Linked DNA regions of Homo sapiens. The protein of the gene in region 1 interacts with the protein of each later gene in a biochemical or structural test. Each region holds a gene or a part of one and is shown in the gene's direction. Other genes may lie near its edges.

Evidence for each region.
Region 2: the proteins of EGFR (region 1) and SHC3 form a complex in vitro, tested with the Homo sapiens proteins (4 studies listed by BioGRID and IntAct, with this or other methods).
Region 3: the proteins of EGFR (region 1) and GRB2 form a complex in vitro, tested with the Homo sapiens proteins (12 studies listed by BioGRID and IntAct, with this or other methods).
Region 4: the proteins of EGFR (region 1) and RASA1 form a complex in vitro, tested with the Homo sapiens proteins (4 studies listed by BioGRID and IntAct, with this or other methods).

What each region holds. Positions count from the first base shown.
Region 1 is NC_000007.14:55,154,627-55,162,052, forward strand, and holds part of EGFR (epidermal growth factor receptor isoform a precursor), read left to right. Parts: intron 1-1,203; coding exon 1,204-1,320; intron 1,321-1,906; coding exon 1,907-2,033; intron 2,034-2,132; coding exon 2,133-2,206; coding exon of another isoform or gene 2,207-2,217; exon of another isoform or gene 2,218-2,313; intron 2,314-3,036; coding exon 3,037-3,127; intron 3,128-5,512; coding exon 5,513-5,712; intron 5,713-6,872; coding exon 6,873-7,005; intron 7,006-7,426. UniProt on the Homo sapiens protein: Receptor tyrosine kinase binding ligands of the EGF family and activating several signaling cascades to convert extracellular cues into appropriate cellular responses.
Region 2 is NC_000009.12:89,175,620-89,183,347, reverse strand, and holds the start of SHC3 (SHC-transforming protein 3), read left to right. Parts: upstream 1-4,529; 5' UTR 4,530-4,887; coding exon 4,888-5,361; intron 5,362-7,728. UniProt on the Homo sapiens protein: Signaling adapter that couples activated growth factor receptors to signaling pathway in neurons. Involved in the signal transduction pathways of neurotrophin-activated Trk receptors in cortical neurons.
Region 3 is NC_000017.11:75,395,253-75,402,678, reverse strand, and holds part of GRB2 (growth factor receptor-bound protein 2), read left to right. Parts: intron 1-7,266; exon of another isoform or gene 7,267-7,426. UniProt on the Homo sapiens protein: Non-enzymatic adapter protein that plays a pivotal role in precisely regulated signaling cascades from cell surface receptors to cellular responses, including signaling transduction and gene expression.
Region 4 is NC_000005.10:87,270,573-87,277,998, forward strand, and holds part of RASA1 (ras GTPase-activating protein 1), read left to right. Parts: intron 1-7,426. UniProt on the Homo sapiens protein: Inhibitory regulator of the Ras-cyclic AMP pathway. Stimulates the GTPase of normal but not oncogenic Ras p21; this stimulation may be further increased in the presence of NCK1.

The sequences.
Region 1 (7,426 bases):
TTGCAGAGGTTTTGTTTTTGTTTTTATTTTGTTTTGTTTTAATGGTTTGGGTTTGAGTTTTGCTTGTTTGTACTTACATTTGTACTGGTGGCTCCAGGGTTTAGGGAAATTGTGACATAAAATAATTCCTGACAGAGAAAGCAAAACTTTGTCTAATGAAAGAGTTTTAGAAGCCACTCTTGATCTCTAGAAGGGGAGATTAACTGAGAAAAAAAATTGAAAGAACAATTATGAGGGGGAGATTTTACCCTGCCAGATTTGTGTACATGAAAAATTTTACATTCCGTATGGAAAAAAAAAACACAAAATAATAAGCCATTATAAGGTAAATGACAAACAAAGCTAAAGAAAAATGTGCCACAGTGATGACACAGATATATCTTTGAGATAGGGCTTAACAGAGCTTTAAAATCCATAGGAAAACACTTCGAGCCTGAGATACCAAGAGCAGATGGTTCACAGAAGAATCATCAATGTCCTATAAATATTTTTGAGGATCTTCTTGGGGAACTTAAAACAGGAACAGGCCAGGCACAGTGGCTCATTGGCTCATGCCTTTAATCCCAGCACTTTGGGAGACTGAAGGGGCTGGATTGTCTGAGGTCAGGAGTTTGGGACCAGCCTGGCCAACAGGGTGAAACCTCGTCTCTACTAAAAATACAAAAATTAGCCGGGCGTGGTGGCGCACGCCTGTAATCACAGCCGCTCAGGAGGCTGAGGCAGGAGAATTGCTTTAACCCAGGAGGCGGAGGTTGCAGTGAGCTGAGATCACACCACTGCACTCCAGCCTGGGTGACAGAGCAAGACTCCATCTCAGACAAACAAAAAAGGAAGACATAGAGCTCCTAAAAATAACGCAGAAGTCTGCTATTAATACAAATGAATTACTTTAAAGGTGAGAGCAGGTGGAGGAGAGGGCTGAGGTGCCTGCTGGGACGCAAAACAGCTGGCCCCTCAAGGGACCCAGTGTTTCCTGCCATGATGAAACACCTGTATTGTCCACATTGCGGCCTAGAATGTTATTAAACTCTTGAACGGGATTCCTTCTCTATTTGCAACCTTTCATTCTTTGTCCTTAAAGTAAATAAAGCCAAAGGAGGATGGAGCCTTTCCATCACCCCTCAAGAGGACCTGGACCGCCTGTGTGAGGCCCGAGCACCTGGTGCCACCGTCATCACCTTCCTTTCATGCTCTCTTCCCCAGGTAATTATGTGGTGACAGATCACGGCTCGTGCGTCCGAGCCTGTGGGGCCGACAGCTATGAGATGGAGGAAGACGGCGTCCGCAAGTGTAAGAAGTGCGAAGGGCCTTGCCGCAAAGGTAGGAAGCCCGCCGGTGTGCGGACGAGGCTTGTTCTCGGCTGCTGAGGCTGGGCTCTCATGCCACCTCCAAAGGAACACATCTTCCTCTTCTCATTAAAAAACAACTATACATATCGTTTCTTTAAAACAGAAGATAAAGCTGTAAAGCTAGGTTAGGCAATGGGAAGGCACTGAAGGTTGTGACGGGGTGGGGGGCTCTGATGAGAACAGTCACAGAGCCAGCCCCGCTCAGCAGCTGCCAGGTGCCCAGCCCTGGGGAGAATCCAGGGAAGGCAGAGCTGGAAGCAGTGCAGCTCCAAGCGGCCCATGGGAAATAATGAGGAGAACGCAAGGTCAGTGTGAGGTGACAGGGATGGCATCTCCTACACCGCCGTAGCCCCAAAGTGTACTATAGGTCCTGGTGTCCCCCCTTCCCGCCTGCACTCTCCCCAGCCCCTTCAGTGTTTGTTGAGTGAATGAAGGATGATGTGGCAGTGGCGGTTCCGGTGACCGGAATTCCTTCCTGCTTCCCTCTGCCTGTGGATCCCTAGCTATTCTTAATCCAACAAATGTGAACGGAATACACGTCTCTCTTATCTCTGCAGTGTGTAACGGAATAGGTATTGGTGAATTTAAAGACTCACTCTCCATAAATGCTACGAATATTAAACACTTCAAAAACTGCACCTCCATCAGTGGCGATCTCCACATCCTGCCGGTGGCATTTAGGGGGTGAGTCACAGGTTCAGTTGCTTGTATAAAGAAAAACAAAATCTGCCTTTTTAACTGGTAGAGATTGGTGATCAATAATCACCCTGTTGTTTGTTTCAGTGACTCCTTCACACATACTCCTCCTCTGGATCCACAGGAACTGGATATTCTGAAAACCGTAAAGGAAATCACAGGTTTGAGCTGAATTATCACATGAATATAAATGGGAAATCAGTGTTTTAGAGAGAGAACTTTTCGACATATTTCCTGTTCCCTTGGAATAAAAACATTTCTTCTGAAATTTTACCGTTAATGGCTGATGTTTTGATATTTTTCAAAAGTGCAGTTTCTCCTGCAGGCAAAAGGGGACACGTTAAGTCCAGGCTTGGGTCATTCACTGCGGTGTAAACACGCTTTCTCCCTCCCGCCCGGCCCCAGCCAGCTGCCTTGGTGGCCCATAACCCCTGAGGGTAGAGGGAGGGGACAGGGGTAGGTGACAGGCAGCCTGGGCCTCAGGCTTTTGAAACTGGACGCCAGAGCCTTGTGGGGCCACGGGCAAGCCTCGGGTCTATGACTGCCGCCTGAGCTCCGCTTCCTTCCTCTCTAAAATGGGAAGATTAGACCAAAATAACAAGACTGTTTTAAGGTTGGAATCAAATAAGGAAAATTTGTAAAGCTCCTTGTATGTGATACCAGATCCACAATTGGCAGATAATCGCAGCAGGAGCCTCTTCGGGGTAATCAGATACGCGGCGCAGCAGGGGTCTCAGGGCCACAGCCAGGGGGGCGGCGGGAGACATGCGGAATCGCAGCGGAAGGCGGGAGGCAGCTGTGAACTGTGGCTCGGCCTGCGTCCGCCCTGCGCATGTACACTCAGAGAAGATGATAATGAAAAAGAAAGCAAATCCAATTTTCCCACTTACTGTTCATATAATACAGAGTCCCTGAGAGTCTAGAGTAATGTCTCATACAAAAAAGAAACTCCTACGTGGTGTGTGTCTGAAGTCTTTCATCTGCCTTACAGGGTTTTTGCTGATTCAGGCTTGGCCTGAAAACAGGACGGACCTCCATGCCTTTGAGAACCTAGAAATCATACGCGGCAGGACCAAGCAACAGTAAGTTGACCACAGCCAAAGCCTGGTAGATTACATTTGCCTTTTTAGTTGGAAATTAGGCTTAACAGGAGAGTTGCTAAGATAGGGCACAGAGCTCCTGCATCTCTCGCCGGCATTCCCAAATGCTATCTCACATGAGCAGGCACAGGGAGCAAGACTGCACGACCACTGGCACAGGCTGTCCGCTAAACCACAGACTTCTCAGCGCTCGCCAGTGCTTCTGCTTCTGTGTCCACTCCAGATCCCACATTGCACTTAGTTGTCAAATCTTTTCAGTCCATTTCTAACCTATATTAGCTCCTGTGTCTTTCCTTGTCTTTCACGGCCTTGACACTTACAAAACGTGTGGGTCAGGTACTTTGCACACTGTCTAACCATGTCTGTTCAGCTGGTGTTTTCTCAGGATGCAATTGAGGTTATGCACATCTTATCACAGGGACCAGAGAGACTTTTTAGCACCACTCTTCAAGAATTTCCACTTTTTCAGCTTTGACAGTGGAATAGACATGCAGGTGCTCACACACAAGCATCTTTAATATGGTAATGGTAATCATCAGTTTAGTGGTGTGGAGGAGGAGATGGGAATCTCTTAGTGAAACCCGCCTTGGAAGCAGCCTCGTTATGAGAACTGCTGCCCCTACTTGACTCTTAAAGCACTAGATAATACTGTGCAACATTAAAGAGAATAAGAGTGCGTGAAATATGCATTGCCTCCCATAAACTCCCTTGGCTCTGAATCTCTGATACTAAATATGTGGCTACCGTTGCTTCCCAGAAAGGCCTTTTTGCTCTGAATTCTCTGGAATGCTTTCTTTGACCAAGATTCTTATAAAAATAAGAGATTTAGAGCAATTTTCTTGGATGGCTGGTATGAGCCAGTTGGCTTAGTTGTAGGGATTTAAACAAGATAAGGGTTACTTACTTTTCACATTTAATGAGAAGTCTGGTGATTCCAGCTCCTACTGAGACAGGGTGGCCACACGTTCCAGGGTGTGACTCACTGAGGCCCCAGACCTGCCCTGCAAGGAAAACCTGGCTCTGCCCTGGTGTCCTGGCCTCCCTGGGCATATGTGGGGGAGAATTCCTAATGGTATTGGTTACAGGCTCCTATGCGAGACCACTCATCTGTGTAGGAGAAAGGAAAAAGATGGGGGAAAGAAGAGCAGCAGGGAGAGGAGAAGCCTCTGGATGATACTCTAACCCCCTGCCATCCAACACCTGAACATCAGTCTCTTCATCCAGTGCTCTCAGCTGGCCCAGCCCCCAGCCTGGGGTCAGATGAGAGCTTCCTGCAAATGCAGATCTCTTTCCTGTGGCTCCTTCTCAATTACAGACAGCTCCTCCACAAGGTGCACTCTGGCCTTGTGCTCCCTCCCCAAACCAGCCCAGCCCTCCCAGCCTGCATCATCGTGGTCCTGTAGGGGCTAGAGGTTCTCACACCCATCGTGGTCTGGCAGAGGCTGGTGGTTCTCACACCCATCGTGGTCCGGCAGGGGCTTAGTGGTTCTTATACCCATCGTGGTTCAGGAGGGGCTAGTGGTTCTCACACCCATCGTGGTCTGGCTGGGGCTAGTGGTTCTCATGTCCACCGCGTGCTTTCCTGCTCCTCCAGGTGGCTGAGGACATCCCCCCTTCGGTCTGAATGACTTCCATCCAGTCATCTGATATACACATTGGACCACCCAATAGCATCCTAGTGTCATGTTGGATGGTGAAGAAAATGCCACAGTTACTGCTTTCAGGGCCTCACAACCTTGGGCATAGCTTTTTGGAGGAAGGCCCCACTTCCCAGGCATCCCTCCCAGACCTGGTCAGAGGCCCCTGCTCTTTGCTTCCATGTTGCCCACACTCACTGTGCTCTTCACACCGGCTCAAAATGATCTGCTTACGGGGTTGTGTCACCACCAGATCAAGCGTCCTGGAGAGGAGGAAACATATTTAACCTGCACAGAATTTGGGACAGAGAACCTCTAGTGTTTGTTCAATAAATATATGAATGGATAGAGGGACAGGTTGGGTGGTGGATAGATGGATGAACCCACACCTTTGAAGTGTATTTGGCTGTTTGAGAGGTTAGAATATGTTCTCAATTTCCAGGCAAAATGAAAATGGAGAAAATATAATGACATTAAGGCATTTTATTCATCCTCCCCATCTGCCACTGGGTTAAAGATACTAAATAAACAAGGAACTATCTTTTGCCTGGAGGAACTTTAAAAACACCTGCAGTTTTCAAAAGGTGCAGTGTGTGCCTCCCACAGCATGACCTACCATCATTGGAAAGCAGTTTGTAGTCAATCAAAGGTGGTCTGGAGAAACAAAGTTTTCAGGGATACATTGTTTTTATAATTTTTCACCACATGATTTTTCTTCTCTCCAATGTAGTGGTCAGTTTTCTCTTGCAGTCGTCAGCCTGAACATAACATCCTTGGGATTACGCTCCCTCAAGGAGATAAGTGATGGAGATGTGATAATTTCAGGAAACAAAAATTTGTGCTATGCAAATACAATAAACTGGAAAAAACTGTTTGGGACCTCCGGTCAGAAAACCAAAATTATAAGCAACAGAGGTGAAAACAGCTGCAGTAAGTCACCGCTTTCTGTTTAGTTTATGGAGTTGGTTCTAATGGGTCCTTTATTTGTATTTAGAATATTGAAGGGCTATTCCCATTTAAATTACTTTTTTCAGTTCCTTAAGAAGCAAATTAAAATCTTAAGATTCCTAACTGTGAAATTACCATGTGAATTCCATTAAAACTTTTTCCAGATCATTACCATTCAATGGGATGAATTTACCCTGAGGTTTAGGCTACCAATTATTTGTAATGTAAGTAACTAAATTTAGTATTAGTTATATTACCTTTTAGTTGTAGGTCACTCTCTGCTCATTTCAGCCTGTAAAGACTACAGCTACACACATACACACACAGAGGAATGGAATGAGCACTTTACATCAACACTTCCTGTTCTGGCTCTAGAGCCTCAGCTTTTGAAGCTGGTGAGAGCCTGGCCTGTGCTGGGCCTTGGCCACGGGCAGCGTCAGCTTTGAGTCAAGTGCTGGTCTGGCCTCCCTAGCTTTGAGCCTCTGTCAATTCCCTTAATCTGTTTAGGCTTTGGCTTCCTCATCCATAGAATGGAGATATGAATGATTCCTACGCCGTAGTGCTTTGAGAGAATTCAGTGAAATTCCTGTGTGTAAAACCCTTCCATGGTGCCTAGCACACAGCACACAGCCAATGGCCCAATGGCTCCTATCAGCTGTGGGATTTGTCATCAGAACACCACCAGCTCTGCTCCAGGCTGCCCTGGGTACCATCAAAACACACCCTGTGCCCAGCAGCACCTGCTCCTCTGCACACCTGGTTCCTTCAGCAGGGGCAGTGGCCGTGGGAGCACAGAAAACATGGAGTCCCATCTGGTTTAATTGATGCCATTGCCAAAGGGGAGGACTCACGGCACCCCCTCTCGGGTGCCAGGGTGCCTGGCTCCCACCAGGAGGAAGACCTGTCCTCCACTGTCAGGCACATTTCAGTCTTCCCAGCAGCCAGCACAACTACTTTGTCCTTCCAGTCACGGTCGGCCTCTGGGAAGCCCAGTCTGTGTCCTCCTCCTTCAGGGGTAGCCAGCATGTCTGTGTCACCCAAGGTCATGGAGCACAGGGCCCCTCCCGGGAAGGTGCCGTCTCCTCCGGCCCCTCGGGTCCCTGCTCTGTCACTGACTGCTGTGACCCACTCTGTCTCCGCAGAGGCCACAGGCCAGGTCTGCCATGCCTTGTGCTCCCCCGAGGGCTGCTGGGGCCCGGAGCCCAGGGACTGCGTCTCTTGCCGGAATGTCAGCCGAGGCAGGGAATGCGTGGACAAGTGCAACCTTCTGGAGGGGTAGGAGGTTATTTCTTTAATCCCCTTGCGTTGATCAAAAATAAGGCTCCAGGTTGTTGTTATAGCTTTACAGGCATTCTGTTTGATTTTCTCTTCCTTTTATTCTTTGCCCTTGGCTTTTGGAGGTTTTGGGTTTTCTGTGGGGAGACGGGAAGTTGTTTGATTGCGTTATTTTTGGCAAATTTAAGCACAATAGGAAATAAGCAAGTATTATTGCCTAATATAATCCAATAATTTATAGAATCTCTTTTCCTGGAAGTATCTTAAATTTTTCTAAGCTACAAAAAGTTCCTAAGACAAATGAGACAGTCATCAATGGTTCATCTAGCCAACACCGTGGCCATTTGGGCTTTTCTTTGTAGTGCCCGATTCCTGGTGTGTGAAAATAAATTAACACAAATTATATTGCCAAGTTAATATC
Region 2 (7,728 bases), on another chromosome or scaffold:
TGGAGGCTGTTCCTCCCTGGGCAGCCCACACTAAAGAGGTGAATGTGGGAGAGAGTGAGGGAGTGCGTGAGAGTGAATGAGGAGCCCTGCAGGCCAGGGGATACTCTCTGTGGATGGCACTCTTTCTCCAGAACTCTTGGAAGGACGAGGTGTGTGGGGCCTGGGTCACAGCCCACTTCTGCCTCTGCTCCCTCCTGCAGCCTCCCCTGCTTTCTGTGGAGCTTGATCTCTAATAAGCATCTTGCATTCCAAACTCTGTCTTAGCTTCTAGCTGCAGACAGCCTACCCAGCCTCGCTCTCTCTTACACTTCCTCATCACAGAGACAGATCCTTTACCTTCCCAGCTATCTTGAATCCATCCCTCTCTTTCCAGCTCCACTGCTCTTGCTTTCATTCAAGCCCTTGTTCTTTTTAACTTGTCCTGTTGTCTCCTACCTCCTCTCAACTTCCCAGAGCCACCCCAAGTCACTATCAAAGTGGTCTCCATAAAAGGCAAACCTGACTATGTGACCCTCTCTCAAGCCCCTTGTGTCCATTTGTTCTTGCATTGCTAAGAAGGAATGCCAGAGGGTAATTTATAAAGAAAAGAGGTTTAATTGGCTCATGGTTCTGCAGACTGTACAGGAAGTATGGTGTTGGCATCTGCTTGGCTTCTGGTGAGGGCCTTAATTGTGGCAGGAGGTGAAGGCGGAGCAGGAGTGTCACATGGCATGAGCAGAAGCAATAAAGAGAGTGAGAGGGGAGGCGCCACATTTATTTTATTTTATTTTATTTTATTTTATTTTATTTTATTTTATTTTATTTTATTTTATTTTATTTTATTTTTATTGTTTTTGAGACAAAGTCTTGCTCTTTTCGCCCAGTCTGGAATGCGATGGTGCGATCTCGGCTCACTGCAAACTCCTCGTCCCGGGTTCAAGCGATTCTCCTGCCTCAGCCCCCCGAGTAGCTGTGATTACAGGGGCCTGCCACCATGCCCGGCTAGTTTTGGTATTTTTAGTAGAGATGGGGTTTCACCTGTTGGCCAGGCTGGTCTCGAACTCCCGACCTCAGGTGATCCATCACCTCGGCCTCCCAAAGTGCTGGGATTACAGGCATGAGCCACCACACCAGGCCGCCATATTCTTTTATCCAAGCAAATCTCATGTAAGCTCAGAGCAAGAACTCACTTATCACCAAGGGAATGGTGCTAAGCTATTCATGAGGGATCCACCCCCATGATTCAGTCACCTCCCACCAGGCCCCACCTCCAACACTGAGGGTCACATTTCAACATGAGATTTGGAGGGGACACACATCCAAACCTCATCACCCCTCTAAGCCTTTATGAGTGCCCAGCCTCCTGACCTCCTCACCAACCCAACCAACCTACCAGGGATTCTGGGAGACTCTGGACTGCTCAGGCCTGGAGCCCTTGCCCACACAGTTTCCTCCTGTGAAGTCACCTGGAGGATGCCTCCACTGGGGTCAGGGGTCACCTCCGCATCCTCAGGACAAGCTCACTCCTTTGGTCAAGTTTTTGTATCTCACACATATTACAAAATTCACATAGTCTTAACTAGGTTATAACATTAATTTCAGATCTTCTGCCTTCCAGAAGGCAAAACCACTTTCCCCAGGGCCCAGCTCATGGCACCTTCTCAGAAATTTGTGGATTCTCCCTCAGAGCCTCCAGAGGAACCAGCTCGGCCCACACCCATGCTGGATCCCAGCATGACCCATTTGGACTTCTTACCTACAAACTGGAAGATAATAAATTGTGTTATTCTAAGCCATTGATTTTGTGGTCATTTGTTACGGCAGCCATAGAAAGCAAATACGTGTTTAAGCATTGATTTAAAAAAGAAAAACCACAACATACTGGAAAGGCTCTCATTGTAAATTGCCCCAGACTGCCTGGCTTTGGTGAATCTCAAGGCTGACTTTAAAATGGAGTTTTTTTTTCCTGCTTCCTTCCATGGCTATCAAGCAAGCCAGCAACAGAAAATTTCATTTACATTTAGCATTTTCTGTCCCAGTGGTCTCCTCTCTCATCTGTCTCTATGTTGATCAAGAAGATATGTGGGCTTTCTGGTACAGGGTCTAAAATAAACATGAACAGCTCCCCAGAAAGGGCAAAGGGTTTTCTCATGAGTAGGGTGTGTGAGCTTCTGTGTGGGCTGCACAGCCTCCTTTTGATGCTGAGAGGCCTTCGGGTTTTTCTTTTTCCATCTTTCTGCTACGTTCCAAAATGTTGATACTATTTTCCAGGTAAGTGAGGTTTTACCGTACTACTGTGTTCTTGGAATATTAATTTCTGTCTTTGATTATATATCTTTTCATATATAGTAAATTTATGTTGCTATTTATATTTTAAAATGACCAATTTCCCTCCACTGGCCTCATAATAAAAGAAATAAAAGTCTCCTGTTGGCTAAACGTTAAGTACATAGCTTTGGATTTTTTTTCCTCCCTGGAGCCTCAGAACGTGTACAGGTGTCCTACATGCCTTTTACAAAAAAAGAATCAAGGGCTAGGAACCTAGGTTTTGAACGTGCATTCAATGTACATTCATAATAAAAGCTGAACGACTGGCACATTCATGGTTGCTCCTTGATGTAAATGAACGGCTGAATGAAAGTTTAGGGGCACAGCTCACCTCCAAGAGAGACCCTCTTCACACTTAGACCTGACCAAGGGATCTTGAATTCCCTTGTAAAACTAGCTTTTCCTCTCCATAGCAGCTGGCCTCTTCCTCCCGGTATCTTTGTAATCCGGCTGGGTGTTTTTTTTTCTTTTTCTTTTTTTTTTTCCCACACTGCCGTTGGATAAAAGATCCCGCCTTTGATTGAAATGGAATCTTCCACTATTGAGCAAGCCTTTGTTGAATGAGTCATCGGGGCGGCCGCTCATTGGCTGAGGCCGCTGGAGCCCAGGGGATTGCCTGGCACCGGCTGCAAGGCCCTGCTTCATTCACAGAAACGCTGGCTCGCTCGCTAGCCTTTTCATTCACACAAACAGCATTTCATTCACATTTTGCGGTTTTTGTCTGCATCTAATGAAGATCTCGCTTTGGGAATGATAGGGCTGTTTCGCTACAGATCTGGGGAGGACTCTGATAACCATCAAAATCATCTATGGGGTGTGCAATTGCTGTTGCTATGCAAGCTAGGGAAAGGGAACAAATGAGTGCCGTGTAGCTGTTCTGCTAGGGCTGCGGCACAGGAGGCGAGCCGTGGGGACGCGTTTCCTGTACCGGGGACGCCGCGGCTCCTCTGCGCTCTTGCGTCCTAGGGGTTGGCCTCACCCGCTCGCCCGCCATGAGTGGCGCTCATTAAACTCTGCTCCATAGAGCAGGGTTCAAGACTCAGGACCTCACGTGCCCCACATGTTCGGTCATGGGAGTGAGAGGACTCAGGGTGACCTGAGAGTGTGCTAGAGCTGAATTTATTCGCTTGCTCAGAAGTTGCGGGAAAACTTTGATAGTGAGTGTTTCACTGTGGAGCAGGTGATCCTAATGCATGAGGAAGCCTGGCAGAGCCCACTGAGGTCAAGAGTCAGAGGGCTTCAGTCTCGGGCAGACCTCTGGGGACAGCGAAAGCCTTGCTCTCCTAACTGAGAGGAAGAAGGCCTGTGCATTTTACTTGCAAGCCCGAGCCTGACTCCTGAAAAGAAGGCATATTTTCCTCCTTGTGGATTTGATGTGCAATAAGAACAGCTGCATTTTTTCCTTCCTGACTGCAGGGTTGCAAGCAGCAACTGAAGGAACATTGAAATGTATTTGTAGCATTTCTTAGGCGTTTTTCCAGAGCTTAAACACATTCAGTAGGATTAAAGCTTCAAATGCAGCCCCTTTTTTGGAATGGATTTCTGGAGCCTGTTGCCACTCGTGAAAGAAGCACTCTTCTTTTTTGGAAGTGGATATTCAACTTAACCCTGGCTGAGAAAGACTGCTGTAAATGAGCAGGGAAGACCCCTTGATTGGCACTGTGCAGAAGTTCATATGCAGATTTTTTTTTTTTTTTTTTTTTGAGGAACTGCATTGCCACAAAGACACTTGTCATCGCTGCTCTGTTAATTTGAAAAGAAAAAGCAAAACCCAGGAAATTGGTATTTTACAGTCACCTGGGGGTGAATATCCTTTTTGTTTTTTTCTATTTAAAAATTCCTGCTGCCTTCCAAGTCAAGATTCATCAGGATTCGCTGAAGATCTGATTCTTAAAAAGCCTTCGTCACATTTTAACGCATCGCTGTTAGACACTTTTACAGGCTCACACAGATGGGCTGAGCAGGGACGAGCAAAACCTAACAGAATAATGGGTTTCAGAAAGTTCATTTGACGATTTGAAGGAACTGGATTGGATTTACCTTTGGCACAAATGCAGATTGCGGGGGATGGGAAGGTGAAAAATCAAAGGTTGGAAGGAAATATCTGGGAAGGTAGAAAAAGGAAATTTGAGAATTGATTGGCTATAGTGTGCTGTCAGCGGGTGGATGTCGTTTTTTTCTTCTTTTTTTCCTTTTTTTTCTTCTGCTACAGGAAGTGATTTGCAGTGCTCACCGAGCCTTTGTTGAGAAGGGTCTCCTCTCAGAGTGAGTCATGCTTTTGCTGTGAGCAGCCCCAAGCAGCTGGGCGCTCCATCAGAGGCAACTATGACTTTTGCAAAGCAAACGTGCAACCCCAAGCAGCGGTCTCCCGGGCCGGGGCTGCGCGGCCGCCGCTGTGCTGGCTTTTAACGGTGGGAGGGCACCATCCTCTTGCTCTGCTCTCGTTCTCCAGAAGGCTGTCCCGGGGCCCCCACTCTCCGTCCCGCTCCGGGGACAGTGGCTCGCCTGCTATGCGCGGCAGCCCGCGCCGGGGCCGGCACCAGCAGCGCCCGGGCGGATGCAGCGAGCCCACGGAGGGGCATGCTTCCACGCACCAAGTATAACCGCTTCAGGAATGACTCGGTGACATCGGTCGATGACCTTCTCCACAGCCTGTCGGTGAGCGGCGGCGGAGGCAAGGTTTCGGCGGCGCGCGCGACCCCGGCGGCGGCTCCCTACTTGGTGTCCGGCGAGGCGCTGCGCAAGGCGCCCGACGATGGGCCCGGCAGCCTGGGCCACCTGCTCCACAAGGTGTCCCACCTGAAACTCTCCAGCTCGGGCCTCCGCGGCCTGTCGTCGGCCGCCCGGGAGCGGGCGGGCGCGCGGCTCTCGGGCAGCTGCAGCGCGCCCAGCCTGGCCGCCCCGGACGGCAGTGCGCCCTCGGCGCCCCGCGCCCCGGCCATGAGCGCCGCCAGGAAGGGCCGGCCCGGCGACGAGCCGCTGCCCAGGCCCCCTCGGGGGGCGCCGCACGCCAGCGACCAGGTGCTGGGGCCCGGAGTCACCTACGTGGTCAAGGTGGGTGCGGGCGCGGGCCGCCCTGGGGGCTGGGGGTTCTGGGGCCAGTTCGGGGCAGACTCCTTCATTCCCTGAAGCCCGGGGTGCGGGGCGCTCCCGCGACTGTCACGTTAGAGGCAAGCAAATGCGCACTCCTTAGCAATCAGCTCGCTTGACAGCGGTGAGGAGGGAACTACAAATGCGCTTTTCCCGCATCCATTGGGAAAAGGTTTACCACTCGGGTGGCCCGCTCCGTCCCGGTTTTCCCTAGGCTCCACTTTTTTGGCACGCCTTTGCCACCTGGCTTACCAGATGTCTGACCAGTGTCATGGGCGCCCAACCCTGGGCAGCGGGGGTCCGGCCTGCCTAGTATCTAGGAAACGCGCTGGGGAGAGCTGGGCAGCCCCCGGGAGGAGAGATGCACGGAGTGGCGGCCCTACTCCTGCTGTGTCTTCCCCGGCGGGAGGGTGGGTATCTTGTTGCCCCCCGCAGCAAGAATTCCCAGCTCCTTGCAGAGCAGGCCAAATGCTGTGCTGCTTTCTCTTCGACGGGCTTTACTTTCTCACCCAGTCCAGGTTTTCTTGGGGTTTGTCTTTCATTCCCTAAGGAAAGGTTCTGGTTTACAGCAGCGGAATGAGAATTCTGGGACTATTTTTCTGGTGACTGTAGTCTTCCATTTAAATGTGCTAAAAGGGAACTAGGGCGCTGCGCTTGGAGCCACAGGCTGGAAAGGAGTTTTTTCCTCCAACACAAAGATGATAAAATCACGATGTAGTCAATAAAATTCCACCCTTATGCAAGCATGTTATGATATTTAAGGAAAAATGCTCAGCACAGTTCAAGTAATCTGCCACGCGGTTATTTCCTTCTGCCGGTTGGGCAGCTCAGAGCTTTAACAGCCTCCACAGCCGAGCAGACAGGGGTTAAGGATGGAAGTTGCAGTATTTCAATCCTGCCACTCCAAGGCATGGCTTTGTATTGAGAAAGAAATGAGACACAAACTCTATCCCCACCGTGTCCTCAATAACACTGAGAAACCCCCAGGATGTCTGTTCCGTAAATATTGGCTGCAGATTCCAGTGTAAAAATTAAATAGAACACATCCTCAGGTAAAATGCAGTGTCTGGTAATTTCGGAACCAAAATATTAACAGAAATACTTAACTTTGTGGATTGCCTTTAACTATATAAAAAGTACTTACAGATGAATGTGGCCATTGTTGTTAAAAGAGGGCTTCTTCACCTTTTCAGTCTGCTTTTTAATTTAACCTTCAAACTATGGATTATTATATTTTACCAAAGGGGTATAGATGAGCATAATATATGCATATTTGGTTGAGTTTATTTTAAGAGGTACTGAATATTCTTCTTGTTTTGCTTATTTAAATTATATAACCAGGGGCCAAAACAAAAAGAAAAAAACAAACCAAACCAAAAATCCCTGACAGCTTTGAGGTTGTGTTTACTTCTGGGGTGTTAGCATAATTGCTGTTTTAAAAAGCCTACATTTCAAATAGACAAATAGACCTTGGCAAAGCTTTTTCTACCTGTCATATTAAACAGAGTAGTTTTCAAATTGAGGGAGAATTCTCAAACTTATGGCTTTAAATTTTTGTTTTAATCACTTTGCTTAGAACTTTGCTTTTGCTTTTTAAAGAAGGAAGGCCAGCATCAAGTTTGAAAGGTCAAATGTGGCAAAATAATGATGAATGTACGAAAATAAGACGGCTCTGCGTCGACAATCTGTTGCTGTAAGGTTTGTGACTTACTGGCAGCATCAGCAGTAGTATTCATAGTCAAAGGGCTGGATCTGCACAGAGCTTGTCTGTGTCTTGGGGTTACTTTGTGTTGCCTCAAATTTAAGGGGTTGCAGTGATGGGTTGAGGGGTGCATGGCATGACTAATTAGGGCTCTGTACCATCCATGTTTTGGTTCCTTGTTCATTAGCAGCCATGAATGGTGCTGTGATGTGAACATAAACGCAGGCATTGTCCTCTGCTGTCCTGGAGAAGTTTGAAATCACGCAGAAAGAAAACCAGATGCTAAAGTGTGTGTGCATGTTTGATTCAAATTATCACATGGCCCTCTGTTGGCGCACATGTGCAAATTCCCGCATTGCCCATGTTGAGTTTAAAACCTCGAACTTATTTTATTGAAAAATTGTTAAACTGAAAACAATCTTAATTTGGCGTTATTTAGAATTTTTGAATAGTTCTACCGGTATCCTTACTTTAAAAGATTTCTGGTAGATAGAAATGGGCCATCTTTATCATATGACTAGATACCAATAGTAAAATATAAAGGTTTAGGGTTTGGGAAAGGATGCATTATTCTCTTTGATATAATTTTTTTCTAAATTAAAAATAAAGCCCCCAAATGTTTTCTAGTT
Region 3 (7,426 bases), on another chromosome or scaffold:
CATAAAAATCACTGGGAGATCTTTTTAAAATTAGGTTCTGGTAGAACTCCAGGATGTACCCCACAGTGAATCAGTCTCTGAATGGGTGGATTTTGATACAGATGGTCTAAGGATCAAAACTGTTGTTACCAAATGCAGCCATAAATAATAAGACTGCTGTGTGGCTTTAAGTAATTCAACTTAAAATTACATTTTTCTGTGTATACACAAAGTCAGTATTTAGAATAGCCTAATGGAATGAGTGACTATAAGCATGATTCATTTTTACATGTGTAAATTTTTTAGCATTCTTAATACTGTGATGTGGAGTGATTTAACTTGAAATTTATACTTAATAGGGTCATTAATTTGCCTACCAGAGAATTCTTCTGAGTCTGTAGACTCAGACGAAAGATTTTTCAGCTTTACAGTGGTGTGAAAGCAATAGCGCTCAGTAAAAACTATACTTCCAGTACCCATATAACTGTTTTGTTTTTCACTCTCAGTACCATAGTCAGTAAATTACAGGAGATATTCATCACTTTGTTATAAAATGGGCTTTGTGTTAGATGATTTTGCTTAACTGTAGGCTAATGTGTTTGGAGCACATTTAAGGTAAGGTAGGCTAGGCTAAGCTGTGGTGTTTGGTAGGTTAGGTGTATTAAAATGCATTTCCATGTAACAATATTTTCAACTGATGATGGTTTCATCAGGATATCTGCCTATGCAGATGGAAGCTCCACATTTACTCTTAGAACATGTAGGCTAGTATTTGAAAAGAGACTGAAAATACTAGTTAAGGTCTCTGGCTTATACTACATTATAATAATAAAATCATCACAGCCCACACTATAGTGGATAATTAGTTAGCTCAGTCTTTTGGAGAGAGCCAGAGACTTCTGCCAAGCATTTTACAACCATTATCTCTTTTAATTATCAAAATGACTTTATAAGGTAGTTGGCTGTTATTATTCCCATTTTCCAGTTAAGGGATACTAGGGATTACAGAGTATAAGTTACTTCTCCAGTGTCCCCTCATTAGTAAGTGGAAAGTGACATTTGAATCCAAGTCTAACTCCAGAGCGTCAGTAAGCTTTTTGGTTTGTGTTGTAACTACAAAAGTAACACATGCCTATTGTAAAAATAATGAAAATACAATTGAGGTGTATCATGCAGAAAGTAAAAGTGTTCTGTGATCTCGCTAGCAGAGATAACCATTGTTAGCCTTTTTTTTTTTTTTTTTTTTTTGAGACGGAGTCTCGCTCTGTCGCCCAGGCCGGACTGCGGACTGCAGTGGCGCAATCTCGGCTCACTGCAAGCTCCGCTTCCCGGGTTCACGCCATTCTCCTGCCTCAGCCTCCCGAGTAGCTGGGACTACAGGCGCCCGCCACCGCGCCCGGCTAATTTTTTGTATTTTTAGTAGAGACGGGGTTTCACCTTGTTAGCCAGGATGGTCTCGATCTCCTGACCTCGTGATCCACCCGCCTCGGCCTCCCAAAGTGCTGGGATTACAGGCGTGAGCCACTGCGCCCGGCCTAGCCTTTTTTTTTAAGCACATACTGATGTATTATTTTGCCTTACAGAAATAGGATAAACTATAATTTTTCTGCAGCTTTAAAAATTTGAGGAGAATGGCTTGAACCCGGGAGGTGGAGGTTGCTTTGAGCAGAGATCATACCACTGCACTCTAGCCTGGGCGACAGAGCAAGACTCCGTCTCAAAAAAAAAAAAAAATTGATATATCCTGGTATTTATGTAGATACTCCATACACAAGCTCATGGATATTGATCAAGGGTGTGGGTGTATATGTGTATGTTGCACATTGTATTTTGTCTCATTGTTTCAGTGAGATAAATCTGGGAAGTGGAATTGCTTGGTCAAGAGTATGTATTGGTCAGGCACAGTAGCTCACGCCTGTCACCCTGGAACTTTGGGAGGCCGAGGTGGGCGGATCACTTGAGGTTGGAGACCAGCCTGGCCAACATGGTGAAACCTCGTCTTTATTTGAAAATACAAACATTAAAAACACACACAAACACACAAAAAAAGAAAATTCAAAAATTAGGTGGTGGTGACACGCCTGGAATCCCAGCTACTTGGGAGGCTGAGGCAAGGAGAATCGCTTGAACGCAGGAGGTGGAGGTTACAGTGAGATGAGATCACACCACTGCATTCCAGCCTGGGCAACAGAGCGAGACTCTGTCTCAGAAAGAAAAAAGGAGCATGAGGCTGGGTATGGTGGTATGCATGTAATCCCAGCACTTTGGGAGGCCAAGGCTGGTGGATTGCCTGAAGTCAGGAGTTTGAGACCAGCCTGGCCAACCTAGTGAAAGCCCATCTCTACTAACAGTACAAAAATTAGCCAGGCATGGTGGTGCACGCCTATAGTCCCAGTTACTTGGGAGGCTGAGGCAGGGGAATTGCTGGAACTCAGGAGGCGGAGATTGCAGTGAGCTGAGATCGTGCCATTGCACTTCAGCCTGGGTGACAGAGCAAGACTCCATCTCAAAAAAAGGAGTATGTATTTACAAAAATTAGCCAGGTGTGGTGGCACACACCTGTAGTCCCAGCTACTTGGGAAGCTGAGGCGGGAGGATGGCCTGAGCCTGGGAGGTCAAGGCTGCAGTGAGCCAAGATGGCACCCACTGCACTCCAGACTGGGTGACAGAGCAAGACCCTGTCTCAAAAAAAAAAAGAGTATGTATTAATATTTCAAAATTGTCGGTCAGGGCCGGGCACGGTGGCTCATGCCTGTAATCCCAGCACTTTGGGAGGCTGAGGCAGGCGGATCACGAGGTCAGGAGATCGAGACCATCCTGGCTAACATGGTGAAACCATGTCTCTACTAAAAATACAAAAAAATAAGCCGGGTGTGGTGGTGGGCACCTATAGTCCCAGCCACTCGGGAGGCTGAGGCAGGAGAATGGCATGAACCTGGGAGACGGAGCTTGCAGCGAGCCAAGATTGCGTCACTACACCAGCCTGGGCGACAGAGCGAGACTCTGTCTCAAAAAAATAAATAAATAATTGTTGGTCGGGCGCGGTGGCTCACGGCCTGTAATCCCAGCACTTTGGGAGGCCAAGGCGGGTGGATCACGAGGTCAGGAGTTCAAGACCAGCCTGACCAACATGGTGAAACCCTGCCTCTACTAAAAATACAAAAGTTAGTCAGTCGTGGTGGTGGGGGCATGTAATCCCAGCTACTTGGGAGGCTGAGGCAGGAGAATGGCTTGAATCCAGGAGACAGAGGTTGTGGTGAGCCAAGATCGTGCCACTGCATTCCAGCCTGGGTGACAAAGCGAGACTCCATCTCAAAAAAAAAAAAAAAAAAGAAAAGATTGTCAAGGCCAGGTGTGGTGGCTCACCCCTGTAATCCCAGCACTTGGAAAGGCTGAGATGGGGAGGATCACGTGAGTCCAGGAGTTTGAGATCAGCTTGGGCAACATGGTGAGTCCTGGTCACCACACACACACACACACAAAAATTAGCCAGGCATGGTGGTGTGCACCTGTAGTCCCAGCTACTTGGGAGGCTAAGGCAGGAGGATGGCTTGAGCCAAGGAGTTTGAGGCTGAAGTGAACCATGATTGCTCCACTGCACTTCAGCCTGGGCAATAGAGCGAGACTCTGTCTCAAATAATAAAAGTAAATAGGCTGGGCGCAGTGGCTCACGCCTGTAATCCCAGCACTTTGGGAGGGCAAAGTGGGCGGATCACCTGAGGTCGGGAGTTCAAGACCATCCTGGGCAACATGGCGAAATCCTGTCTCTATTAAAAATAGAAAAATCAGCTGGTCATGGTTACAGGCACCTGTAATCCCAGCTACTTGGGAGGCTGAGGCAGGAGAATCGCTTGAACCCAGGAGGTGGAGGTTGCAGTGAGCGGAGATCACGCCACTGCACTCCAGCCTGAGGGATAGAGCAAGACTCTGTCTCCAAAAAATAAATAAAAATAAATAAAAGTTGTCAATAGATTACCAAAGAACTCACCAAAAAGATTGAGCTGAGCTCATTAATTCCTTGCTGTAGTGTGGGTTCTGTGGTGATTTTATTATTATAATGTAACACCAAGCCACATTGTCAGTTAGTAACTTCTCAAAATGTTGAGTCAGTGGACACCGGGTAGGGTAAAAAGTCTTTGTGCCTGGTGCGGTGGCTCATACCTGTAATCCCAGCACTTTGGGAGGCCAAGGCAGGCAGATCTGTTGAGCTTAGGAGTTTGAGACCAGCCTGGGCAGCATAGGGAGACCCCATCTCTACAAAAAAAAATGAGTAGGCTATGGTGGCTGGTGCCTGTAGTCCCCACTAAGGAGGCTGAGGTGAGAGGATCCCTTGAGCCCAGGAGGCGGAGGTTGCAGTAAACCAAGATCACGCCACTGCCCTCCAGCCTTTGCTACAGAGTGAGACCCTTTCTGAAAAATAAATAAATAAATAAAAGTGTGTTTACTCAAAGTATTGCAGATTGGATTTTATAAATATTTTTAAAATTTGCCAATTAGTATATGAAAACTCTGATTGTTTTAATTTGCATTTCTTTTCATATGTTTTAAATAGAGTAACATTTAAAATTTCTTTTGAAGGCTGGGTGCAGTGGCTCATGCCTGTAATCCCAGCACTTTGGGAGGCTGAGGTGGGAGTTTGAGACCAGCCTGGCCAACATGGCGAAACCCCATCTCTACTAAAAATGCAAAAGTTAGCCAGGCTTGGTGGCGCGCACCTGTAGTCCCAGCTACTTGGGAGGTCGAGGCAGGAGAATTGCTTGATCCTAGGAGGCGGAGGTTGCAGTGACCTGAGATCGTGACACTGCAGTCCAGCCTGGGCGACAGAGCTAGATGCTGTCTCAAAAAATAAATAAATAAATAAATAAATAAATAAATAAATAAATTTTGAGTGATTATTACATGTCGGGCTCTATCCAGAGCACTTAATGTATGTTATATATGTTGTCTAATTTAATCCTCAGTGGATCTTATAAGGTAGATATTCTCATTTTACAGATGAGAAAACTGGAGCTTGTTTCACAACTTTGCCCACAACTGTAGCTGTAAGTGTGAGGGGCCTGCCTCTAGAGACCATGAAGATTCAACACTAAGCTATACTGGACTGTTGTCATGTATTTTATTTTCTGTGAATTTTGGGAAGAAGAGAGTTAAATGGAAGAAAGAAAAAAAATCTTGCAAATACCTTTAGGATAGTAGTTTTTTTGGATACAGTAGACATTGTTTGAAATGAATGATTAAAGCTGTACTTACCTTTCTTAAAATTCACTGCTTGGGATGGGCTGGTAACAGTTTCGAGGTTACTCTCATTAGGCTTCAGTGTTAAGTACACTATACCCCATTTTCTTGGGAAGTGAACAGCAACATCTACTCTGTTAAAATCATTATACATTGTGTCTGCTTTCAGATTTCTTCCTTTTAGTAATTAGTGTTGTGTATGTGTTAGATTTTTTTTTGTCTTTACTGAAACACACCCTTTGGAATTCCTTTAGCGAATATGCTCTTTTGGGTGGATAACCTAATAAGCTTTCCTCTTTGAGTTTTCTGTTTTTTTACTCAGCACAGCCATGGAAGTAGGGATTTAATTTTCTGTCAAACTCTGCATCTCACAAAGCAATAGTTACTCAAAACACGACTTTCAAGAAGGTTATTCTTTTTAAGCTTTCAGCAGATGAGCTGAGTAGCAGCAGGAAAGCAGGTATTGAGAACTGTCTTGGTTTTTGTACTGCTGTTGAGTAGTAACATTGCAGCTGTCTTAAATCCTGAATGACACAGAAGCTTATGGCTGGTCGTACTACATAGCACCTTGAAAGTGACAGGGCTTTTCATTTCTATCTGATTTCTGTTTTTCAAAAATAAAACTCCTTATTCTTTTCCTATCATTGTAAATATTCTTCAGCTTCCTATCACTAATACATAGTCTCGGCATTAGAGACCAGTTAAAATAAATAGGCTGAGGAAAATCTTGATAGTAGGAGAGATTTTGGAGCATTCATTAAAAGTAAAAATAGGGCTGGGCGTGGTGGCTCACTCTCCCCTGTATTCCTAGCACTTTGGGAGGCCGAGGCAGGCAGATTGCTTGAGGCCAGGAGTTTGAGACCAGCCTGGGTCTTAAAAGGTAGATATTATTCTCATTTTACAGATGACGAAACTGGAGCTTGTTTGAAAAGTTTGCCCAAAATTGTAGCAGTTAGCGTGAGGGGCCTGCCTCTAGAGACCATGCAAATTCAACACTAAGCTATACTGGACTGGTCTCACATAGTGAGACCCTGTCTCTACAAAAAATAGAAAAAGTAGCCGGGCATAGTGGCCCACACCTGTAGTTCCAGCTACTTGGGAAGCTGAGGCATGAGGATTACTTGAGCCAAGGAGATCAAGGATGCAGTAAGCCATGACCATGCCACTGCACTCGTGCCTGGACAACAGTGCAAGACCCTGTCTCAAAAAAAAAGAGAAAAGAAAAAGTAAAAGTAGATACACAGGGAACTAGGCAAGTAAAAAATAGAACATTAAGCAGTTGCTAATGCTGGGAAAAATCTAAGGATTGTACAAAAAAGTATGATTGGGTCAGGCACAGCGGCCGATGCCTGTAATCCCAGCACTTGGGGAGGCCAAAGTGGGCGGATCACTTGAGGCCAGGAGTTCAAGACCAGCCTGGCCAACATGGTGAAATCCCGTCTCTACTAAAAATATAAAAAGTAGCCAGGCTTGTTGGCACATGCCTGTAGTCCCAGCTACAGGCCGAGGTAGGAGGATCGCTTGAACCTGGGAGGTGGAGGTTGCAATGAGCCGAGATCATGCCACTGCACTCTAGCCTGGGCAATCTTAGAGAACTCTATCTCAAAAAAGAAAAAAAAAAAAACACAAAAAGTATGATTGGTTTTAGTGCATTATTTAAATTATCAGTGAGTAGTATTTCATAACATACTACTGATTAAACCAGAATATGTGATATTACTGGTATAGGTCGGGGGAAACTAAATCTTCACCTTTCAGGCAATAGATAATGGCTGGAATAAACTGAGAAAGCAGTAAAAGCACATTCTTTAGAAATACTCTATCCATTTTGTGCATTGACCACAAGATTTAAAAAAAGAAAAATAAGTAAATACAAAGAGAAAGCAAAAAACAAAATCGAGAGTGATCGCCTGTGGGTGTTGGTAGGGAGCTGCTCTTTTTCATAAGCCTTTTAATACTCTGACTTTTAAAATTATGTACACGGATTAGTTTGATCAAAGTAACTACAGAGAGTGTAAGTGAAGGGCATTTAAGGATACACAAGTATAAATATTCGCAGATCAACCTCTGTATTTTTTAATATTTGCTGGGACTCTTTCTTTACTTTCCCTGTTACAGCCAGCGCCACATGGAATATCTTAGGTATGGCCTGAAGGAATAAACATTGGTTTGGTTTATTAGTTACCTGCAGCAGAATGTTTGGCTTTCAGAA
Region 4 (7,426 bases), on another chromosome or scaffold:
CTGACCTCAGGTGATCCGCCGGCCTCAGCCTCCCAAAGTGGTGGGATTACAGCCGTAAGCCACGGTGCCCGGCCTTTTTTTTTTTTTTTTTTTTTTTTTTTTTTTTTTTTTGGATAAGCTTCTTTGGAGCATTTAGAAAGTTCTGAAACTAATTAGGAAAAGATTCTGTTACCCTAATCCATTTTTGACTTAAGGCTACATCTTTTGATACTTAAAGGGGAAAAGTAAAGTTAGTCATATTTATGCCAGCCAACGGGATGTAGTATTCCACTTTTTATATTCCTCAATAAAGGATTCAAGTCTTTCGTCAGAGTTTGGTTCATATTTTAATGTCTTTGTAATGCAGAGTCCCTGGGAGTATTCTGGGAGTGTTAATTCCAATTTTGCTGGGCGCGGTGGCTCACGCCTGTAATCCCAGCACTTCGGGAGGCCGAGGCGGGTGGATCACCTGAAGTCCGGAGTTTGAGACCAGCCTGACCGAGATGGAGAAACCCCGTCTCTACTAAAAATACGAAATTAGCCTGGCGTGGTGGCGGGTGCCTGTAATCCCAGCTTCTTAGGAGGCTGAGGCAGGAGAATCGCTTGAACCCGGGAGGCGAAGGTTGCAGTGAGCCGAGATCCTGCCATTGCACTCCAGCCTGGGCAATAAGAGCTTAACCCCGTCTCAAAACAAACAAACAAACAAAAAAACAATATTACAGCACTGCTTTTGAAAAAAATAGTTCAATTTTTATTAAATGCTAATAGCATGCTTGGTACAATGGTTATGAAAAACAATGCAACTTTTCATACTGAAAGAATCTAGTCTTATGCTAGTTTATAACTAAATTAGGTATATTTAGGATATTGTAGTTAAAAAAAACTGTTTTTAGTAGACTTCTTTTTTTTTTTTTTTTTTTTTTTTTTTTTTTTGAGAGATGGAGTTTCGCTGTTTCGCCCAGGCTGGAGTGAAGTGGCGTGTTTTCGGCTCACTGCAAGCTCCGCCCCGCCCCTCCCCGCCTTCAGGTTCAAGCGATTCTCCTGCCTCAGCCTCCTGAGTACCTAGGATTACAGGTGCCCGCAACCAGGCCTGGCTAATTTTCATATTTTTAGTAGAGACAGGGTTTTGCCATGTTGGCCAGGCTGGTCTCGAACTCTGACCTCAGGTGATCCACTTGCCTCCCGAAGTGCTGGGATTACAGGTGTGAGCCACCGCGCCTGGCCCAATAGACTGTTTTTTAGAGTAGTTTTAGGTTCTCAGCAAAATTGAGGGGAAAATACAGGGTGTTCCCATTAAATTTTTAGTAATAAACACGATTGGGCTGGGGGTGGTGCTTCACGCCTCTAATCCCAGCAATTTGGGAGGCCAAGGCGAGTGGATCACTTGAGGTCAGAGTTCGAGACTAGCTTGGCCAACACGGTGAAACCCCGTCTCTACTAAAAAAAAAAAATCAGCCGGTCGTGTTGGCGGGCGCCTGTAATCCCAGCTACTCTGGAGGTTGAGGCAGAATTGCTTGAACCAGGGAGGGGGCGGTTGCAGTGAGCCGAGATCTGCCGTTGCACTCTAGCCTGGGCAGCAAGAACGAAACCCTGTCTAAAAAAAAAAAAAACACCATGATTGAGTACTTATGAAAAATTGTGAGAAATTCATTGTGTGGGATTTTCACCATTACTACATGTATTTGGAAATAAAAATTGTATGACTATGTATATGAAACTTGTTCATGTTCTAAAAAATACCCTCCATTTATAATATGTTTTTAAAATTTGCCACTGAGAAGTACAAATTTCCTTCTTATTTCATCTTAGTTATCAACCCAGAGTCACTGGAGGCAATGCAGTGTAGTGGTTAAGCGTGCAGATTCTGAAGTTAGACAAGATTTGGGTTGGAATCCTGACTCTGCCACTTACTAGCTGGGTATTCTTGGAAAGGTCAGTTTCCCCATCCGTAAAATGGGGATAGGAATGGTACCTTCCTCATATGATTGTTTTTTTTTTTTTAAGATTTAATGAATACCTTGATGTATTCGTCACAGTACTTGGGCATAGTAAGTGTTCGATAAATACGTAGTCCCCTGTGCCCATAACTGTAATATTTTACTAGCACTAAATTGTCTACTAATTCTTTTGGTTAGAGAATCTCCCTTGTTAAATGACTATTTTACAGAATGTTTTGAACTCCAAATCAAGCCTACCACGATTAATTATATTAAGAATTTTATTTTAACTTTATAAGGGCTTCTAGCAGTAGGTTAAGCAATTTTAGAGGTGAAATTCAAGTGTTCTCTATAAATTCCTATTCCTGAATGTAGATATTCATATTTTTAAGTGGAAGGAAAAGCCTTAAAGACATTTTCAAATAATATTTATCTTTTGTAAAAGTATTGAAGAAATGTTGGACTAAATACTGACTATGAGTAACTGGTCCCCTTAGTTATGGATAGCATGGTATTAAGGGGGTTTAGGTCACAGGATTGAGTCCACAAGTGGCTTGTTACTCGAGTGTTCCATGGTCAGGAAGTTAGTTCAACTTTGTTCCCAGTTTTGTGCTATTGATCACAAAAGAGTCAAATGACAATATGTAGATACACCAGTGCAAATAAATTAACACTATTAATTAGTATTTTGTACCTTGTTTTTCTGTGTACGTGGTGAATCATTAGTCTCATTTTTATTACTGAGCATTTTCATTAGTTTGGTTGAGGCTGGAAATGTTTATGTAATTTGTACTATTTATTTGAATATTTTTGAAAGTTTTGAGAAAATTATAAAAATAAAAAAAATTCTTCCTCTCTATTTCTCTACTATAAAAGTTTCTATATCTAAAACTGTTAACAGATTTCTTTTTCGAGAGAGAAAAGGTTAAATTAAAGAAGTTTGTCACTAGTACTCCATAATTTTTTGGAGTTTCTTTTCATGGTTCTCATTTTTTTTCTTCTGCAGGGTGAGGGGCAGTGGTGGTAAAGGTATATTGTTTGTGTAGTGCACCATCAGTTATATGTAGAGATTTTTAACTGTGAGTCTGCAGTAGCAAGTGGCCATTGGTGAGAATCCAACCCACAGATATATACTGCTTGCCCTTAGAGTATTTGGAATATTTGATAATTGTCACCATTTAAGAATAGAGATTTCTTTTCTTTTTCTTTTTCTTTTTTTTTTTTTTTGAGATGGAGTCTTGCTCTGTTACCCAGGGTGGTGTGCAGTAGTGTGATCTTGGCTCACTGCAACCTCCGCCTCCCGGATTCAGGTGATTCTCCTGCCTCTGCCTCCCCAGTAGCCGGGGTTACAGGTACACACCACCATGCCTGGCTAATTTTTGTATTTTTAGTAGAGACGGGGTTTCACTCTGTTGGCCAGGCTGGTCTCGAACTCCTAACCTCAGGTGATCCGCCTGCCTTGGCCTCCCAAAGTGCTGGGATTACAGGCGTGAGCCACCTCGCGGCCAATAGGAAGATTTCATATTTAAGAAGTCTCAACTTCTAGCATCTCTAGAAAACCCACAGGACTTGGCTATACCTGGTGGCCATTCCTGCTTGAGACTAGATTGCCAGAGCTGAGTAGCGGTTGACCCTTTTAGGTGGGTACTGAGGTCTCCATTTGCAGTCTCCACCAGGTCTGCTTTGCCTTTGCTATTGCAGTATTTGCCTGGCATCTGGCCTGGATCTTATGCTGAACCTAATATTCAGACTTCTCAAGTCTGAAACTTTAAGGAAAAGAAAATAAGGAATGTAAATAGTACCTTTCTTTTTTAAAAAAATCATTTTACTGTCTCTACAAAAATAAAATCATTCTTATTAAGTCAAATAATTGGTGAAGGTTAATGTTAGAACATGTAGCATTCATTAACTTTGTCACTGATTGCATTATACATATGGGTGAGCCATTGTTTCTTAATAAAAATGGGGGTGAGACTTGCTAAGATTAGTTACGGACAATGATTGATGACCAGAACTCATATTTTTTACTGTATTTGTATAAGTAGCAGAGAAATATAGTAGGTGCTTCAAGGGTTGCAAGAGTAAAATGCCCCTTTTCTCAATGGGAGAAAAGGGAGTATTAGATCTAGTAGGAAATTAAGTAAACCAATTACTGTGATTCAGGCTAGGTTAAGATAAATATCACGAGTGAAGTATGAGCAAAGGTCATGAGGGTTAAAAGAAAAAGAAATTTGTGTAATTAGGATCAGTAAATTCTTTGAGGAAAAATAGCAGGTATGTTTTTCCTGCTACTTAATTTATTTTCTGAGCAAGAGGTTATTGGTTCTGATGCTCTTCGCTTAATGATTCTATCAGGAAAACATAATTATGAATTAGATGAGTTTAAACTTTTCACCCTTAGTGAAGAGTCTGGTCTACAGAACTTTTAGTTACCTGTGGTCTGGAGGGAAGTTGACGGTGATGTCTGTAGTGACTGAGGTACAGAGCACAGTTGAATGCTAGAATCGGTATGGATCATTGATTAGCCACTCTGGGGAAAACAGGCAAACATTACTGGCAAAGCTAAAAAGGACAGCCATAAATTAGGAAGGGAAAAGGAAAAACGAAGAGTAGACTTTCTGGTTGCTTTACTTCTCTCTCTTTACTGGCCATTGGTGAAATGAACAGAGTCCCTTTAAGAACACTTAAATACCCAGAAAAGTACCTTTTGGGAAGAAGATTTTTTATAGTGATTATTAACTATAACAATGGTTACCACTGACATTTTTTGTTGTTGTTGCTTACTGCCAAACAGGAACAGTTCTAATTGGTTTATTTGTATTGTTTTGGTTATCTATTGCTGCATAATAAAGCACTCCAAAACATAGTGGCTAAAACAATTGTGTATTTGCCCTTGATTCTAAAATTTGTGTATGGCTTTATGGTGACTTCTCCACATGTGATCTGTTGGCTATAATGTCCACTGTGGCTTCTTAACTCATAAATCTAGTGCCTCAACTGGGATGGCTGGAGCAGCTGGTAGATGGCTGGGCATTTCCCTCTCTCTTCCTACCCATGTCGTCTCTCCACTTGAAGAAGGTTGGCCTTCTTTTTTTTTTTCCCCCCTGAGATGGAGTCTTGCCCTGTCGCCCAGGCTGGAGTGCAGTGGTATGGCTCACTGCAACCTCCGCCTTCCGGGTTCAAGCATTTCTCCTGTCTCAGCCTCCCAAGTAGCTGGCATTACAGGTGCGTGCCACCACGTCCAGCTAATTTTTGTATTTTTCATGGAGATGGGGTTTCACCATGTTGGCCAGGCTGGTCTCGAACTCCTGACCTCGTGATCTGCCACCTTGGCCTCCCAAAGTGCTGCGATTACAGGCATGAGCCACTGTGCCCAGCCAGCTTGGCCTTCTTCATAGCATGGCAGCTATGGCAGTTCCGTGAAAGACCTTTCCAAGCCCTAGTGTGCCGGTATTTATCAAGCTTCTGTGTTCCTCATCCTTGCTAATGTTCCAATGGTGAGTGCTGGTCACATAACCCAGTGTGCATTAAATATGGGAGGGGACTATAAAATGGCATGAATACAGCAAGTTGAGCTTTCCTCAGGGCATCAAAGTAACAGTACCATGTGTATTACTTATTTTCATGTAATACGAGATAATAGAATACTAGTAGTGAGGGACAGGCTGGGAGATAGGACAAATACTTATGAGTTCTTCCTTCAGGCCCAGCAAGCTAAGTTGTCTTTTGTTAAATGAGTCAAATTTCTCCACAATAGATGTTGCTTTTTGGCTACCATTACCTTAATTTTAAACCAAAAATACTGAATACGGATGTTGTTTATTGTTTGAATATGCAGGTATTTCTGTGTTACCTTGAAATCACTGGCAGTACATTTCAGTTTTGTGCTGCGTTAAAAATTGTTGTTATTAGATACAACTTATTGATAACTATGTATGTCTTGTCACATCTCTACAGGATTTAGGGTATGATGATTTTAGGTGTTTTAGTGGTTATGTGATTTAGTGAGTAAAATAATGAACAGTATGGGGGACAAAAAGAAATATACAATTCTACAGTCTAGTTGGAAGATGAGGCATTACTGGTAGGGAAATAAGATGATAAAAGTAGTCTACAGATACGTTGTGCAGGTAAATTTTTCAAATTCAGAGGATAGTTGCCAAAGAGTGAAAGAATGAAAGTAAATGAAAGAATGATACTGAAATTTCATACCATAATTCTCTTGAAGGAAATTTCAGTATCATTCATTTAGGATTATTACAGTGAGAAAGTGTGATTAACTTTTGTAACATTTGTGTTTCAAATTGTAGTCAAGTTGTTATGTGTAACATAGAGTTTTAGTTACAGAGGGAAGCTTCTCTGCTTAGATACAGAAGTAGCCTTAGGTAGAGTGACTTGCTTCACTCCACCCTACACCCTAGCTAAGTTCATATAACTAGGTAGTGGTAGAACTGGGACAGAATCCGATTCTCATACTGTTTCACATATATTTAGATTTGAGTAATATTTATAATTCATTTTTTTTTAAATTTTAGAGAGGACTAGAAGCAAAGGCTCAGTATTTGCTAATCATTTGCTAGATGTCAGGTACTTTATATAGATTATCTTATTTAATTCTTACAATGATATAGTGAGAATGGGCATCATCCTCATTGTTGAGGAAACTGAGTGATAGAGCTGGAATTTTAATGTAAATACTATGCTTTTTATTTTGTCTTGCCCCTTTCCATTACGTAGAATGTACACACATATATGCACCCAGATAAAACTTAACGTACTTCAGGGCTGGCAGTAACTGGCATTTTGGACTTAATAGTTCCCCCCTGTCCCCCATAGTCATAGGTTGAAGCCTTAACCACCAATGTAACTGAATTTGGAGATACAGCCTTTAAAAGAGGTAATTAAGGTTAAATGAGGTCATAAGGGTGGCTGGTGAATCCTATAGGACGGGTACCTTTATAAGAAGAGGTACCAGGAGTATGAGTGCATCAAGAAAAGGTCATGTGAGGACATGGTGAGGAGGCCTTCATTTGTCAGCTAAGGAGAGAGGCCTGACCAGAAACCAAGCTTGCCAGCACTTTGATAGTTCAATTTCCAGCATGCAGAACTGTGAAAAAATAATTTCTGTTGTTTAAGCCACCCAGACTCTGGTATTTCGTCATAGCAGCCCAAACTGACTAATACATGGGTAACTCTACATCTTTAAAAATGGATTTGGATTATTTTGGAACAGATTAAATGCATGTCTGCTGCTTGAGAAATAAGGTCCTCATTCTTTTAATTTCTTTCACTGTGGGAGAGAAAATCTTGCCTTACTTTACCTCTTTCTTTGTTAGTCAGTGACCTTTATCTTTTTTGATTGTACCTCTGTTGAAAGATGGAAAGCATATTTAAATGCATGTCTGATTATTATAGTGTGGAAAGATCCTACACATGACCATGGTAGCCATGGAATATCCTATGGATAAGCTGTTACTCCAGCAAATTTTCTGTATTCAATGTGTGTTCAT